2 separate regions of the Homo sapiens genome follow, and region 2 is linked to region 1. The links come from fine-mapping of genetic effects on gene expression. A gene starts in region 1. The other region holds a variant in brackets. All regions are shown on one strand. Distances are between the middles of the regions. Region 1 holds the start of PAPSS1 (3'-phosphoadenosine 5'-phosphosulfate synthase 1). Region 2 overlaps PAPSS1 (3'-phosphoadenosine 5'-phosphosulfate synthase 1).

Region 1 (5,484 bases):
TACAAGGATCAGAAAATTTAAAATTCTAGCCCCATCAAAAATCCCCCATAGAATCAAGTCTTCTCTGCAGCCAAACACAAGAGCATCACGGAGCCCCAGCCTCCCTATTGAACCTTACCTCCACTTCCCAACAAAAACTCTCCAGGGCAGTCAAACAAGTTTCGTCAATGTTTCTGGAGTAAAAAAAATAGTAATTTTTATTCCCAACACTTATCCATGCAGTTCCCCTCTGACTCAGAAATCTGAAATCCTCCATAAACCCTCCCAAAACGCCCAGGCGAAACTAATCTCTCCTCTAAATTGCAATAAAACTTCTGTCTTACGCCACTCACTCTGGACCACAAAGACATATTCACCACTTGGCAAATGTCACAACCCCAACACAAACCATGAACTACCAGAAGGCAAGCAGTAAGTCCCACATTTTTCACCACCATGTCTAGCACAAGTCTCTACATAGAATACGCACCATGTGGCAAATGTTAATAAATAAATGAGTACATAAATGGACAATGTAACAGAAATCATCTGTAAATACCCCAAGTAAGCCAACCTTATTTCCCTAACCGTGAAACACCTTAAGGTAAGAGAAGCGAAACTGAGTCTGAGTTTCAAGGCAGTGGTTTCACCGCACATTCAAATTCATGATCTGTCTTCTTTGTTCATCAAAACAATCCCGTGAAGTACATACTATTATACCCTTAAGTCAACTGAGGTTCGAAAAAGTAAAGTGACTCTCCTCAAGATCACACAGCTAGTAAATGGCAAAGCTGGGATGAGAGACCAGGCCAGGAGTCCAGCGCTCTTTCCACTGTTCTAATTCATCTTTTAAATCTCCTTCCCCTCCTTACCATCTATAGAGTTAAATAAAAGGAGAGAGGAATCAGTAAACAACTCATGATAACAATAACAACAGATGTGGTAAATTAATGACTTCCAAAGAACATTTGCCTGAAATTGCTTGTTTTTTTTTTCTTTGATTCATCTAGGGCAAGTAACGTTTTGGGAGACATTGCATTTAAACCTTATTATTCCATTGGACTGTGAAATAACGTTTCCGTCTAAACTTAAACCAGTGCCTTTCCAGACTCCAAAGATGGGCCCTTCCCTGCTGCACACTTACAAAGGAAGATAAGGCTCTTTCTCATCACAGAGAAATTAAGGAAGTAAGCAACGTTATGAGGACACAGCACTTTACAAAGTCAACTGGCAGTCATTACTAAACGTTATAAAGGACTGGTCCCATACCTGACTGTCACCAGGAATGGAGTCTTCCAAACTCCTACTTGTTAAACATTCCGATTTAACACAGAGACACAAAGAACCTCAGTTCAGGGCAGTCTCAACTCATGAATGACCACATTGTTGGGTACTCTCCTTTCACACTGAAACTCAGAAATGGAAAGACACGGAGATGGACCCAAACCTGGGCCAACCGCACTGGCAGAGCCAAGAAAAACCAAGAACGCGTCGAAGGCGCCCGCCTCCGCCTTCTCTGCACATCTTCAGGCCACTCCAAGGTATGCAGGAAGCTCCTGTTTCTGCAGCCGCAGGTTTCAGCACCCGGAGGTTTCAGCAAGCGCCAGTTCACGGGTGAAGGATTTTCCTGGGGGTCTTACCTGAGCGGAGGCGCTGGGGAGGGGGGGCGTTCTTCCCACGAACGGTGGCTCGGACCGCACGCTGCGCCAAGCTAGGGCGAGATCCCCACCCTGCGCCGCGCCCCTCTGCCTCGCAACCACCCACGGCCCCAGCCGGGAGGCGCCGCAGCCCCGGAACCCACCTCCGCGCTCCTGGAAGGATGGATGCGGAGGAGGCGGGAGAGAGGCGGCGGCTCCGGAACGAGCTGCTCCCACAGCCCCTCCGCTCCTCGCCGTCTCGCCTTCGTCCCCAGCTTACCCAGTTCTGCGCGTTATTGCTCAGTTTGACTTTCTTGCACAGGCTCCCGGGGATCTCCATGACCGCGGAGCGCGCTGAGCAGCCGGGGTTCTCTGCGCCGGGAGGGTAGCAAGAGGAGGGCAGGCCAGCGAGCGGGGCGGGGCTGGAGGGCGGGGCCTCCTCGCGTCGGAGCGGGCGCGCGCTGACTTAAGCACGCGCCCGTGCTCGTGGCCTGGGTTGCGCGGCGCATGCGGCGCGCCTCGGAAATGGGTCCGGGGCAGAGGTCTGTGGGGAAGGGCGAAACGCCGGGATAGAACCGGAGGTAGAAGCTGGGGGCGGAGCTTCAGCGCTCGCGCCGGCGCGGGCGCGCACGGCGCTCCTCCTTCCAGATCCCGATGAAGGGGCGGGGCCTGGAATGCAGTCGTGGAACCTCAGGTGCCTCTGCGGCACCGAGCCTAGCTCTGAGCTAACGCAGATCTCTAAGAGCGAGTACCAGCCGCCGGGAGAAAGGCAAGGGGAGTGCGCGGCTCGCCGCGCGCGGCACTCCCTCAGCAGAGGCTGATTGGGAGGACGCTGACGCGGCCTCTTGCACCTGTGGCTACTCCTCCACAGACCTGGCTGCCGACCTCCTGTCTGCCCCTTCTGTGCCCATGTCACCCTGGCCAAATGTTTTAAATGTTTTACAGCTTTGCAAAGGGAAGAATTGATTTACCGAACAGCTCATTCTCCACATTAAAATTCTACTCAAGACACAATTTTTTTTCTTTTTTTGAGACGGAGTCTTGCTCTGTCGCCCAGGCTGGAGTGCAGTAGTAGGATCTCGGCTCACCGCAACCTCTGCCTCCCGGGTTCAAGCGATTCTCCTGCCTCAGCCTCCCGAGTAGCTGGGACTACAGGCGTGTGCCACCACGCCCGGCTAATTTTTGTATTTTTAGTAGAGACGGGGTTTCACTATGTTGGCCAGGCTGGTCTCGAATTCCTGACCTCATGATCCGCCCGCCTCAGCTTCCCAAAGTGCTGGGATTCCAGGCGTGAGCGACAGCGCCTGGCCTCAAGACACAGTTTTTAAAAAGATATAATAAAAGCCCGATTTCTTGACATCAATAATTAATATCTCAACCTGGATTAGTGATTACTTATAAGGTGCCTCCCTCTCCGCTAGGAGACCCCACTTCGCATCAGATTTCTGTGCAGTGCTTCTTACCGACCTACACCGGAAAGGGGCTTCTGTATTATTAAGAGCTACTCAGGAAATACCTAGAGGACTGAAATCCAGGACCGGGGAGGCCGCAGGTAACCCCGAATAGAACTCCCGCCTACGGAGGACATTTTCAAATTCACCTAATTATTCCAGGGCTAGTTCGTAGGAGGATGGGCTGGGGGCATGACAGAGTTTCCTCCAGGAGTTATCTTCCCCACACCCCCCATAACTCTGAGTTCTCTTTTCCGCAGCTTGCCCCTGGCACCAAAAGAGTTGCTTGCAGCTCTGCCCCCCTGTGACACAGCCGCCCTCCGCCCCTGACCCCGCCCATCACCAAGACCTGAGACTGCTGCCTGTTAGTGACTAGCAAATTAGCCCCCATCACCAAGACCTGAGGCTGCTGCTGCTGCCTGTTAGTGACTAGCAAATCAGCCCCCATCACCAAGACCTGAGGCTGCTGCCTGTTAGTGACTAGCAAATCAGCCCTCCATCTATTTGCCCCACTGCTACTGTCTTAAATTAGGCCTCCCCTATATCCAGCCTGAGTTATCATTAAGCCCGTTCACTGGACATCCTCCCAGCTGTGCAGCCGCTCTCCACATCCCCGCCACACACCCCATTCTTGCACCTGCTGTCAGAGCGGTATTTCTGAAACAGAAATCTGATCTTGTTACTTGACTACTTAAAATGTGAATGGTTCCCTTCAGCTTTTTTTCTAGGGAATTTTCAATCTGGGGTTCATACATAGAACTGAATTTCAATATAATTTCAAATTCTGCCAATAACAGGAATGAGCTTGGAAGAAGATCTCAAGCTTCATATGAGAAAATAGGGCCACATCTGAAGTTAGCCATTGCTCTGAGTTCTGGTTCTTATTAGAGGGAAATGGTATTTAGATATAACGATCTGGCTCTAGGAGTGCTCACTGCTGTGAGTTTGACCTTATTTCTAGTAAAAGACTTTTTTTAAGGTAAAATATATCATAAGTTTACATTGATACTGTCCATCCAAATTCATGATTCCAGATATGGGTCATGCAAATGAGCCAGAAACATCAAACAGGAAACATAACAAAAAACTGTCAAAAGCTACTCGGATTATGTCAAAAGGACTCAGAAACCAATTTAAAGAAATTTTTCCATGTCAAAGATGGGAGAATTAAAGCACTAAATGGACTAGAACTACAAAATATTAAAACATATCAAATATGTTTAAATCTAGGTGTTTGTAATGATGATGATTTTAAAAAAAATTATTGTCACTCTTAGAGAATGCTAGGAAACCAACTCATTATTTTGAAAACTGGTAAATAAAGGGGATGAATTAAGCATTTACTCTGCTTTCCCTGGACTGTCTGGGACCCAAAAAATTGATAAAGAGAAGTTTCTCTTTACAGAAGTACCACTAATAAATAAAGAAGAAATGATATCATTTTAATATCACCACTTTTCATTTTCTACTGAAATAATGGATAAAGACAATGATCCTCTGTATTAGTCAGGGTTCCCTTAGAGGGACAGAACTAATAGGATATATACATATGAATGGGAGTTTATTAAGTATTAACTTACACAATCACAAGGTCCTACAATAGGCTGCCTGCAAGCTGAGGAGCAAGGAGAGCCAGTCTAAGTCCCAAAACTGAACAACTTGGAGTCCGATGTTCAAGGGCAGGAAGCATCCAGCACAAGAGAAAGATGTAGGCTGGGAGGCTAGGCCTATCTTGCCTCTTCACGTTTTTCTGCCTGCTTTATATTCCCTGTTAGCGGTTTAGGTGGTGCCAACTCAATTAAGGGTGGATCTGCCTTCCCCAGCCCACTGACTCAAATGTTAATCTCCTTGGGTAACAACCTGACAATGATCAATATTGCATCTTTCAATCCAATCAAGTTGACCCTCAGTATTAACCATCACAAGTCCACCCCTTGACAACTTGAACCCATACACATCTCCTGAGATCATTCATAATCTTCAAATAAGACAATAATAAGGTCATAATTATGTCTAACATAACTGAACTGTCCTTTGTACAACTGGAAATGCAGTCCCCAACTCACATACTATTACATAAAGTTAACAATACTTAAATGCTGATATGAAGTCAGTGAATCTCATATCACATGATAAAGGAAAAGGAAATAAAATGAAGATATTTTCTTAGTACAAGTGTATGCATGCACAAACATGTTTTTAACAAAAGAAGGAGGAAATTCTCATGACAATCACAGTCCTCGTTTCTGCAGCTGGTCATGTGCTCATAGCTGGTATTGATGACTACCTTTTTCTACTACCCATTCTGTATTCCCTTTGCCTTCAGCAAGTACCTGAACAGGTGGTGGTTTTTTTTTCCTGGTGGAGTGACCCAAACCTTCATTCCTGAAGGGTCTGGGCCATTTGTAGTCCTGCCT
Region 2 (5,000 bases), 28 kb before region 1:
CTTCACATCTCCGCATTCCCACCAGACTACCAACTCCTTCAGAATAGGAAGTATCAGGTTAATTTTCAGAACCAATATGCTCAGTTCAGTGGTTGACATGGAAATTCCCAATAAACTTCTCTTGAATGAACAAATATAATCATGACTATACAGAAAAATACACATGTCCTGTATTGCATGTTTCAATCCAAATATTTTCATGGATTTTCAGATGCCCTAAACATAGTCCAAACCTCATTATCAGTGCTTTTATAGATGAGGTCAACAAAGATTTTGCTCCACACTATACAAACAAGGGGGCCACAAAGCAGATCAGCACACACTCTTAGATACCCAGGTGTCGGCTGATAGCTCTCCATAACAGGTATTATAGACCTCCCCCTTTTCCGAGAGCTGCAAGATTCCCACCAGAAGGTATAAGAATGCCAATATCATATTTTTATGAAAATTGTGTATATCCAAGGATTCAGGAACTCTAACTCTTATTATGCTCCTATTATTTATACACTTTAAACTGATATATTGGCAATGACCCAAGGGTTTCAAGAAATGGTTTTTACAGAATGTTTTAGGACTCCTGCCATGGTTCAATTAAGTGAACCTGTGTAAATAATACTCAATCTAACACTTATCCATAATTCTTACAGGTCAAATCTTGTTTAAAAAAAAAAAAAGTCCAAGTAACCATCAAAATTTATGATACAGTACTAGAATTGTGCTAATATAATTTATTCCATTTATTGAATAGTTATTACATGCCAGGCACTGTGCTGAGGCTTTAAACACATGACTTACGTAATCTTCAGAGCAACCCTATGTTGTAGGCATTACTTGAACTGCAGGAGGTTAAGTGTGCTGGACAAGGCCACAGCAGCAATAACTGGCAGAGCTGAGATTTCAGCCCCTTTGTTTCCAACTCCAAAGACCCTGCCTCTCACCTCTATACTAACTCGCTTATTCACTGATATCAGGGCTTCCCAAGGGAGTATGCTATTGTTCAACAAACACTAATCATATAATATGGTCCAAGAGCCGGGCTTGGCATCAAGATTACAAAGGCAAATAAGACACGGTCCCAGCTGTCAAGGAGCCAGTGGGGTTTGGAGGCAGCATAGCATCTAAGCCCAGGAGACGCACTGTCTGGATGCAAACCTGTGCTCTTCTACAAGTATAGTGTGTGACCTTGGGCAATGCACACCTTTGTTTCCTTGTGTCCCCACTAGGAGACAAGAATTACTTGAGTTAATTCACATAAAAGCACTCTAGCAGTTACCAGAACACAGTTAAGTGTTCAATAAATGTTAATATTATTACCACTACAGCTACTATCAATATCAACAGTCAATGAATTGGGTTTTTAAAAATAACATATGCATACCTGCAACCATCTTATCTTTGACAAACCTGACAAAAACAAGCAGTGGGAAAGGATTCTCTATTTAATAAATGGTGCTAGAACTGGCTTGCCATATGCAGAAGATTGAAACTGGACCCCTTCCTTACACCATAGGCAAAAATTAACTCAAGATGGATTAAAGGCTTAAATGTGAAACTCAAAACTATAAAAACCCTAGACGAAAATCTAGGTAATACCATTCAGGACACAGGCACAGGCAAAAGATTTCATGACAAAAACATCAAAAGTAATTGCAATAAAAGCAAAACTTGACAAATGGGATCTAATTAAACTAAAGAGCTTCTGCACAGAAAAAGAAACTATCATCACAGTGAACAGACAACCTACAGAATGGGATCAACAAGGAACTTAAGCAAATTTACAAGAAAAAAACATTAAAAAGTGGGCAAAGGGTATGAACAGACACTTCTCTTAAGAAGACATACATGCAGCCAACAAACATGAAAAAAAGCTCAACATCACTGATCATTAGATAAATGCAAACGAAAACCACAATGAGATACCATCTCACACTCGTCAGAATGGCTGTTATTAGAAAATCAGGAAACAATAGATGCTGGTGAGCTCGTGGAGAAAAAGAAATGCTTTTACATTGTAGGTGAGAATGTAAGTTAGTTCAACCATTGTGGAAGACAGTGCAGTGAATCCTCAAAGATCTTGAGGCAGAAATACCATTTGACCCAGCAATCCCAGTACTGAGTATATACCCAAATGAGTATAAGTCACTCTATTACAAAGATACATGCATGAGTATGTTCACTGCAACACTATTCACAGTAGCAAAGACATAGAATCAACCTAAATGCCCATCAACGATAGACTGGATAAAGAAAACACGGTGTGTATATATATATATATATATCATGGAATACTATGTAGCTAAAAAAGGAATGATATCATGTCCTTTGCAGGGACATGGATGGAGTTGGAAGCCACTAACCTCAGCAAACTAACACAGAAACAGAAAATCAAACACTATATGTTCTCACTTATAAGTGGGAGCTGAATAATGAGAACACACGGACACATGGGGGGAAACAACACACACTGATGACTGTTGTGGTTGGGGAGGGAGAACATCAGGAAGAATAGCTAATGGATGCTGGGCTTAATACCTAGGTGATGGGATGATCTGTGTAGCAAATCACCATGGCACACGTTTACCAATTTAACAAACCTGCACATGTAGCCCTGATCTTAAAATAAAAGTTGAAGAAAATAAAATAATGTGTTAA[G/A]GTACCTAACCTAAGTCTCCATCTATAACTGGAAGTCAGCTGACACTGTGAAAACAGGAACAGGAGGGAGAAGAGTGCTTTCCAGGCAGGGAGGAAACAAAAATCCTGAGATAAGAAATGACATAATTTTTTCAGAGAAATACACAAACATGGTTTGTTGTTGCTGCAGTCTCTAAAATAAGAGGAACTATGATGCAAGCTAAGAACAACGAATTCTGAGCAAAGAAGCCATGGTAGGGCACATGTTAAGAAAGTTAGATTTTCTCCGGAGTTTGACATCTGTCAAGTATTCACTATAGTTTTATTAAGTTGAAAAGTTGAGCCTGAAATAATTTGGCCATTGGCTTAAATTCAATGACTGTGTTATACTTCACGGCTTTTTTAAAAGCAGGTTTTATCAAAACCAGATTTACTTAGAAAGTCACAGCATAGAAATGTTTTAGGTTATTTTAATCCTATGTTACAGGAACAAAGAGATGGTAGCTGGGGAGGAGTAGAGTTAGCCTCAAAGCACATATCAATGTTTAAAGTATGTGCTTTGCCTGATACCATATTCTCAATAAATGTAAGCAGAAAGGCAATGGCACAAAAACCACATACCTGAGTGTAAGGTGATATGAAACTTGTGATGCACACTAAGCCAGCATCTGCAAACAGTTTAGCAACTTCTGCGATGCGTCGAACATTCTCTTCTCTGTCTTCAGGACTAAAGCCAAGATTTTTATTGAGACCTTGACGAATATTGTCACCATCCAGAGTGTAGCATGGAATACCATGACAAACCAGGTACTCCTCCAAGGCCATGCTCACAGTAGTCTTTCCCGCTCCAGACAAGCCTAAAATTAAACAGTCCAAACAGATTCCATGTGTAAAGTTAGAAGGATAACTATGTAGTAATACTTTTTTTTTCCCAGAAACAAGAGTCTTGCTCTGCCACCCAGGCTGGAGTGCAGAGGCTGCATAGCTCACTGCAGCCTCAAACTCCTGGACTCAAGAGATCATGCCTCAGCCTTCCAAATAGCTAGGACAACAGGCACATGCCACCACATCCAACTTATTTTATTATTTGTAGAGACAGAATTCTCAATATGTTGCGCCAGCTGGTCTCAAACTCCTGGCTCAAGAGATATAAAAAATTGCAATCACAGGATTAAATACATTCATTATGCAAAGCAATCTCTCAGTAATGTTCTTATCTAATATTTCTCTTTAAGATTTACCTCTTGCCTAGGAAAACACCTACAGTTTAAACATAATAAGTGTTTGTTTTAATGAAATATCTATGAGCAAACGTATCAGAAATCACTGATAAACTTCAGAAAGGCTTAACTAATTTTATTAGCAGACATGGTTGGGAATTCACTTTGTCCTCTCGTTACCACTTTTCTAAAGCTGCATGCCAAATTTTAAAACAAAGTCATATGCCCAAATTATTTCTGGTGAGGGAAGAAAAAGAAAGGACAAAAGAAAGAAATGTTACAAAGGTACCTCCATTTTCCTAGATCATCAGCACTCACAAACCACCTTGATACAATTATCTGGGAGTCCAATTTATAATATAATTAATTTTAATAGAACACCCTCATTTCAACTCACCTTCCTATACCAACAGTATTTACTCAGTAAACAAAGAGAAGGAAAGAGTACATTTATGCACTATTACTTGCCAACTTGGCGAGTGTCATAACCAAGATAGTTCTAAAACAAGAGATAAAATACTAAAGTCTAATGTACCAATGCTCTTGAAAGAATTCATGGTAGTACAGAAGGCTAACTGGAATAAAAAAAAAAATAGAAGAGAGGGCTTTTTTTTGGTTCCATATGAAATTTAAAGTAGTTTTTTTCTAATTCTGTAAGAATATCAAATGGTAGTCTGATGGGAATAGCATTGAATACATAGATTACTTTGGGCAGTATGGCCATTTTCACGATACTGATTCTTCCTATCCATGAGGCTGGAATGTTTTTCCATTTGTTTGTGTCCTCTATTATTTCCTTCAGCAGTGGTTTGTAGTTCTCCTTGAAGAGGTCCTTCACGTCCCTTGCAAGTTGTATTCCCAGGTATTTTACTCTCTTTGTAGCAATTGTGAATGGGAGTTTATTCATGATTTGGCTCTCTGCTTGTCTATTGTTGGTGTAGAAGAATGCTTGATTTTTGCACATTGATTTTGTATCCTGAGACTTTGCTGAAATTATTTATCAGCTTAAGGAGTTTTGGGGCTGAGACTATGGGGCTTTCTAAACATAGAATCATGTTATCTGCAAACAGGGACAATTTGACTTCCTTTCTTTCTATTTGAACACCCTTTATTTCTTTTTCTTGCCTGATCGCCCTGGCCAGAACTTCC

The links. PIP is the estimated chance that this variant, and not a neighbour inherited with it, causes the effect.
Region 2: its variant is fine-mapped to the expression of PAPSS1 in whole blood (INTERVAL, PIP above 0.99).

The regions. Positions count from the first base shown.
Region 1 is chr4:107,718,224-107,723,707 of GRCh38, forward strand. PAPSS1 (3'-phosphoadenosine 5'-phosphosulfate synthase 1) reads right to left here and starts at 2,011. Exons shown (of 12, transcript NM_005443.5): 1 at 1,897-2,011. The coding sequence starts at 1,956. RefSeq lists enhancers at 1,264-1,323, 3,314-3,463 and a silencer at 1,954-2,203.
Region 2 is chr4:107,690,519-107,695,518 of GRCh38, forward strand. PAPSS1 (3'-phosphoadenosine 5'-phosphosulfate synthase 1) reads right to left here. Exons shown (of 12, transcript NM_005443.5): 3 at 3,253-3,488. Among named protein-coding and RNA genes, the nearest start is that of PAPSS1, 27 kb to the right of the region's middle. The variant G/A (reference allele first, on the strand shown) is at 2,653.